Regions from separate parts of the Homo sapiens genome. Here region 2 is linked to region 1. The links come from fine-mapping of genetic effects on gene expression. A gene starts in region 1. The other region holds a variant in brackets. All regions are shown on one strand. Distances are from middle to middle.

Region 1 (2,916 bases):
ACAAAGACACTAGAAACACACTGCCAGGGTCTCGCCATTTTCTGGCTGTGTGTGTGATTTGGGGCAGGTTACCTGACATCTCTGATGTTCCCCTCGTTTATAAAATGGGACTAATAATAGTACCTACTTCATAGGGTTGGAAGGAGAGTGAACGAGTTCAGACGTATGAAATGCCTGGCACACAGTAAGAGCACAGTAACTTCTTAGTGGTACAACCATGACTTCGGCTATCATTTAGTTGAATACCTGCATTAGTTATTTAGTTGAGATTATTTGATATTGAGTTGATTGGTTGATGAACTAATTCTCTAGACCAGGCTTTTTCCTAAGCTCTAGGTCTATTTAACCAACTGCCTACTAAACATTCTCAACTGTATTTAGGGTTCCTTAAACTCAACGTTCACCAACTAACTCATTTCTATTTTCCCACTCCTCCTCCAGCCAAAACTTTTGTATTCTTTTTCCTAGATGAATAACAGTTATTCCTTTTATATCCTTTTTCTAGATGATTAACAGTATCATCGTCCAAAGGCCCAAGCCTTTGAAAGTTAATAAAATTTCCTATCTCTATGCTAAACATAAACACTTAAGTGGTCATCAGGTCTTTTCAGTTTTCCTTCCTATCTTCCCTTCTGGACTACAGCAAAAGCCGGTATTTTCTGTCTTTAGTCTCCTTTCCTCCCAGGAAACCATCCTTCTTTCACACTGCAGTCAGGCTTTTCATCCTTTTTAATATGTTTTCATCATCTTTCCATTCATCTTCACGATAAAAACAATTTTTTTAGCATGGCATATGAGGTAATTCATCAATTTGCTGCTTCTTGTCTCTCAAATTTCATCTCCTACCACCTTTGGTTTTAGCCAAATGAAACCACCTATAATCTCCGAAGTTGTCACCCTCTTTTTCACCTTCATGCCTTTGTAATTCAACCTGGAATGCCCTTGCCTCAATTGTCTGTCTAGATAATTCCAACTCCATTACAATATAATATCTCTAATTCCCAAAACACTACTCCTAATCGAATTTTTTAAAAACCTAAACAACAGTTAACAGATGCTAGAATTCCAGTATAGTTTGCTGAAAACAGAATAAAATTTCTTTTGTGCTTTTATTTCTAAGGCACAGAATACATTTCTTTTTAGTCATCATTTTAGCTTTCCATTGACTACTAATGAGTCTTTGGGTGAGAAATGGAAGGTGAATTGGAACGTATCTTCTACCAGGATTTTGTAACAGATCTAGATGGCTAGGAAAACTGTGAAAGGGGAAGAGGTGCGCAGCTAGCCATTCCCCACTTTCCTCTTCTCTCTCTCTCTCTCTCTCACACACAGACACACAAACACACACACACACACACACACACACTTTTCTTAAGGGAAAAATCACTCTGTGTTCTTTTAAAATCCCTCAGGTTTTATGTTTTATTGCTACCAGAGTCTGCCTCCCTGAGGTTCTTGTATAGACTAGTTATTTCCCTCTGTAAAGAAGCTGTTCTATTCGTTCTCGCCTGGTTTGGAACAAACTGAACACTTCCAAAGGAGGCAGTCCTTGCAGCCTTGTCTCCTTCCACTCCCCTCCTCCCCACAGTCCTGGCTGGAGCAGCGAGTCTGTCGATCCCAGGCCAGAGACAAGGCAGACAAAGGTTCATTTGTAAAGAAGCTCCTTCCAGCACCTCCTCTCTTCTCCTTTTGCCCAAACTCACCCAGTGAGTGTGAGCATTTAAGAAGCATCCTCTGCCAAGACCAAAAGGAAAGAAGAAAAAGGTATGTAATTTTTTCTCTATAAAAAACATCTTATGTCAGTTGTTCTACTCCAAAGTATTACTGTAGATTAGAGCAGAAATGTATGTATGTGTTGAGTCAGAAGAGAAAGACAGAGATCCTCTGAGGAGATGATGCAGGCACTTTGAAAAATATGATGCTTCCTAGTAGAAAGGCAAATAATCAGATTAAAAAAGAACAGAAAATGTATATTTCTTGACTAGGAAAGTCATTTCATTACAGGTTTAAAAAGAGGCAGATTCTTCACTATCATTTATTTAATGCCCAAATTTACTCTGAATGTTGTCCCACACAACAGGACTTATCCCAGTCCTCAGAACTATGTGAGGATGATAAAGTATATAGGATTGTTTTAAATGCAGCAGCTATATTACCTACACTACATGAAGTTAACTGCAACATCTAAGAAAGAAAATGTTTTTTGCTTTTAAAAATCCTGATTTCTGAAAAGAACCTGGTACAAATGTGTGATACAAAGAGGGAATTCATTGAATTCATCCTTGGTGTCCATTCTTGGAACACAACAGTGTCTGTACTGCTAATATAAAGAGAACACTTTTTCCCTCTGAGACTTAGAAAAATTCCTCTTTAAAATTCCTTAACTTAATTACACAGGCTATGAAAAGCTCTCCCAAATGCTGGTCCTTTTCTCCAGTGATGATGATTTACTGTGTCCAGGAAAAGAAGGAGAATGATGCAAGACTGAATATTAATATCATCTTCTGGCATGCTCTAAAAGCCTGATCACTTTTAGGGAGGATGTGGATTTTGTTTTTCTATGGATGAAGGTATCTTAGATATTTAAGATGATATGTCTGTTTTAAGGATCTTTAAGCAGCTTATTCACTTTTTAATACTGCTTCTGTTCTTTAACACATACTTTGGGAAATTTCACTTTGGGACTCAGTCATTCTAACAAAAACATTTTCTAAGGACTCAGTCATTCTAACAAAAACGTCTTCTAAGGCAGCTAATAAGAAAAAAAGAGAACTTTAAAAAAACAGTGATTTTCATCCTCCAAGAGAGATGAGTGGAAAACATCACAGACTGGGCAGCAATTTTAATCTCTCCCAACTATAATTTTGATATTTCAAATGTCAAGTTCTGGGCTGGAGTTTTCATTTGCTTTTGCAG
Region 2 (2,916 bases), 33 kb before region 1:
TGACCTCCGACAGAGGCACTAGCTGGAGTCCACTGCTCCTTCAGACAGATTGCAGTGAGGTTCTAAGAGCAAGGAAAGAAGCTGAAGACAGAAGATGACTAGTGCTGCCCAGAGAAAGGCCACTGATAGGGTGACACCTAGAAACAGCAAGCAAACAGAAAGAAGGGAAATCCCCATCCCTCCTCCTGCAGTCCAGAGTCCCTATAGGGCATCCTAAGAGGAAGCTCACAGACCAGAGCGAAATGCACTTTTCAGAGTCTTGGCCCCTGCATCACACAGCAGAGTGTACAGGGCGGGCTATGTCACTGAGATTAATCCAGCACAGGATCAGACAATCTCTTGGGTCAGAAGAGCAGCAGAACTTGCATTGGTAAACACAACAAGCTTAAAAGCTTCTGTTTTCATGACTATGTTTTTTGGAAGGTCAAATAAGTTTGGGAGAACTATCTTTACAATTTGGAGTATCACAAAGTCTATTAGTATATTAAAGGATCAGAGAAGTCTTGCAGTAAAGGAACTTGCTTTATTTTGTTTAATTATTTCTAAAATTTATTCAGTGTGAATTCCTTTCCCCCCAACACACATATAATATTCCTCAGAACATGCAAACTGTTCTAAATGCTGCTGTAAAAAAAAGTTACTAAAGTCCAAACTGCTTTTGTTGGTTTGCTTCTAAAGCTAGGAAAAAGAGAAAAGAATATGTATATAGGTGAAATCAAATAATTGGGAAGAAAAACAGAATATCTGCAAAGCATTAAATCCAATTCTATTTTTTTCATGCTTTCTGATATCTGTAAAAGGGAGATCCTCCTCTGCCCTTTACCACACCATTAGAGAAAAAATTCCTCATGTAATCCTCAGATAAATCATGAACCACAAGCTATAACAAAGACCACCAGCTTCAACCAAATCTAAGAGAACAGGGTAGTGTTACGTGAATCTGTACAAATAAATCACACAGCACTCTGAGATGCCCAGCTGCCTTAAACATATAGGGTAGCTTGAAAATTATCCTGCAGAGCAAAGAGTGGCTGTATTTCTACTCAAGAAGGTAAAAAGAAACTCTACTCTCTCCCTTTCTATACATTTTAGGACTATGACTAGTTTCCACTCCCTCCATGCCTGCCTCAGACAGGAGGAGGCACCTGACAGAACCGAAACCTAGAGTGTGGCACACGGTAAACTCTGGGGAGCTGGGCTGGAAGGTCATGTAGACACATGGGCTGAGGCCAGCATTCAGCAGATACCGGCGAATGGGTAGAAAGTGGGTAGAAAG[A/T]GTTATCCACAAAGACAGATACTGAGAGAAAAGGAATGACCGGGATGGAGGGAGTGGGGAGAGACAGGAGAGGAGGAAGAAGGAGGAGAAGGAAGGGAGGAGAGGGAGGAGAAGGAGGAGTAAGGGGAGGAAGAGGAAGAGGAATCTCCCTTTTATAGATGTCAGGAAACATGAAAGAGGAAGGAAGGAAGGAAGGAAGGGAAGGAGGGAGGGAGGGGGGGAGGAAGGAAGGAAGGAAGAAAGAAAGGGAATAAGGAAGGAAGGAAAGAAGGAAGAAAGGAAAGAAGGACCTGTAAAGTAGATAGAAAGAGGGAGGGAGGGAGGGAAAAATTACTGCTGGCTGATTTTCCAGATCCCATGATACTGGCTCTAAATTCTTCCTACTCAACTAGAATGCTTCATTTGACAACATCACAATGTGCAACCACTATATGGATCCTCATCAAGTTATGCTAATCTGGCTTTTACCTCTAAGTTGGATTTTGTCCGTGAAGACAAGTGATTCCTATCTGGAAATCTGGAAGTTTCTTAAGCAAACAGTTTGAATTGATTTTATTTATTTAATTGACTATTCCATTCCTTATCAAAAAACAGGTACCAAAAAGTTCCAAACAGTTGAATGTAGATGAAAGTAACCATCACATGTCTTCAACACACCTCCTTGCATGGTGATGTATTACCTACAGACCTGGCATGACACTAATTCATACTATGATAAAACATCAAGGCCCAATTCTAGTGCTAAGAAACTTTCTGTCCCATTCATTGGGAAGATGATCAGACAGAAGACCCTGGAAGTTTTGCCTCTTATACTCACATAACAAAGGGCAGACATTCCTGGGGCAGGGATGAGAGAAACCAACTCTAGTTAAATATCTATGGTTCAAGGCATTGAAATTTGCTATTAATGCCCCAGCATAGTCTCTTTTATTGGATCTGGCTTCACTTTACAGGCAAAGCAATACCTCTGACTATTGCCCCAGCAAGCTTCCAATCACAGACTTCTCTAAAGGTGACTTATAAACAGGTACTTATATTTGTGTATTTTTGCCTTAGAGTACACACCACATCTTCCACCTTCTAAATTCATTGGGTTTGTCATGCTTCACTTTCATTGGGTTCTTGCTGTTTCTACCCTTTTGGAATTAATCAGTCTGCTTTCCAAACTCACTTTCAGCTGGAGTACAGACTGAAACTTCCCTTTGCCCGCTGGTCCACAGTCAAAGGCCAGGAGCCCTGCCCACTCCCATGCTCAGTTCCCCTGCTTGAACCCCAGCCTATGCCACAGGAAGTGGTCCCCCAAATAACATGCAGTACCCCTTTGCCCATCAGCAGAACTCTGTTTGCCTTTTCTCTTTAACAATTTTAAACATACTTCTTTTCTTTTTAAAAATTATTTTAGATTCCAGTGGTACCCGTGCAAGTTTGTCACATGGTGGTACTGCATCATGCTGGGGTTTGGGCTTCTACTGAACCCATGATCCAAATCATGAACATTGTACCCACTAGGTAGTTTAGGAAGTTTTTCAAATCTTGCCCTTTTGGAGTCCCCACTGTCTATTATTTTCACCTTTGTAAACATACTATTTTCTAGTCTCTTTCTAAATGAGGATCTAATTATAGTGGCTGTTTTTTCTGAT

Alleles and levels. Alleles are on the strand shown, and positions count from the first base shown. SD is a standard deviation of normalised expression in the study named.
With allele T in place of A in region 2, the expression in spinal cord of the gene that starts at base 1,716 in region 1 is higher (small effect, 0.32 SD a copy in GTEx).

The links. PIP is the estimated chance that this variant, and not a neighbour inherited with it, causes the effect.
Region 2: its variant is the best candidate, but not a certain one, in a credible set for the expression of SCRG1 in spinal cord (GTEx, PIP 0.57).

The regions. Positions count from the first base shown.
Region 1 is chr4:173,397,916-173,400,831 of GRCh38, reverse strand. SCRG1 (stimulator of chondrogenesis 1) reads left to right here and starts at 1,716. Exons shown (of 3, transcript NM_007281.4): 1 at 1,716-1,764. All of the region lies in intron 1 of LOC112268474 (a long non-coding RNA gene), which reads right to left.
Region 2 is chr4:173,430,878-173,433,793 of GRCh38, reverse strand. It overlaps a transcript of SCRG1 not described here and the pseudogene LOC124900814. Among named protein-coding and RNA genes, the nearest start is that of SCRG1, 33 kb to the right of the region's middle. The variant A/T (reference allele first, on the strand shown) is at 1,277.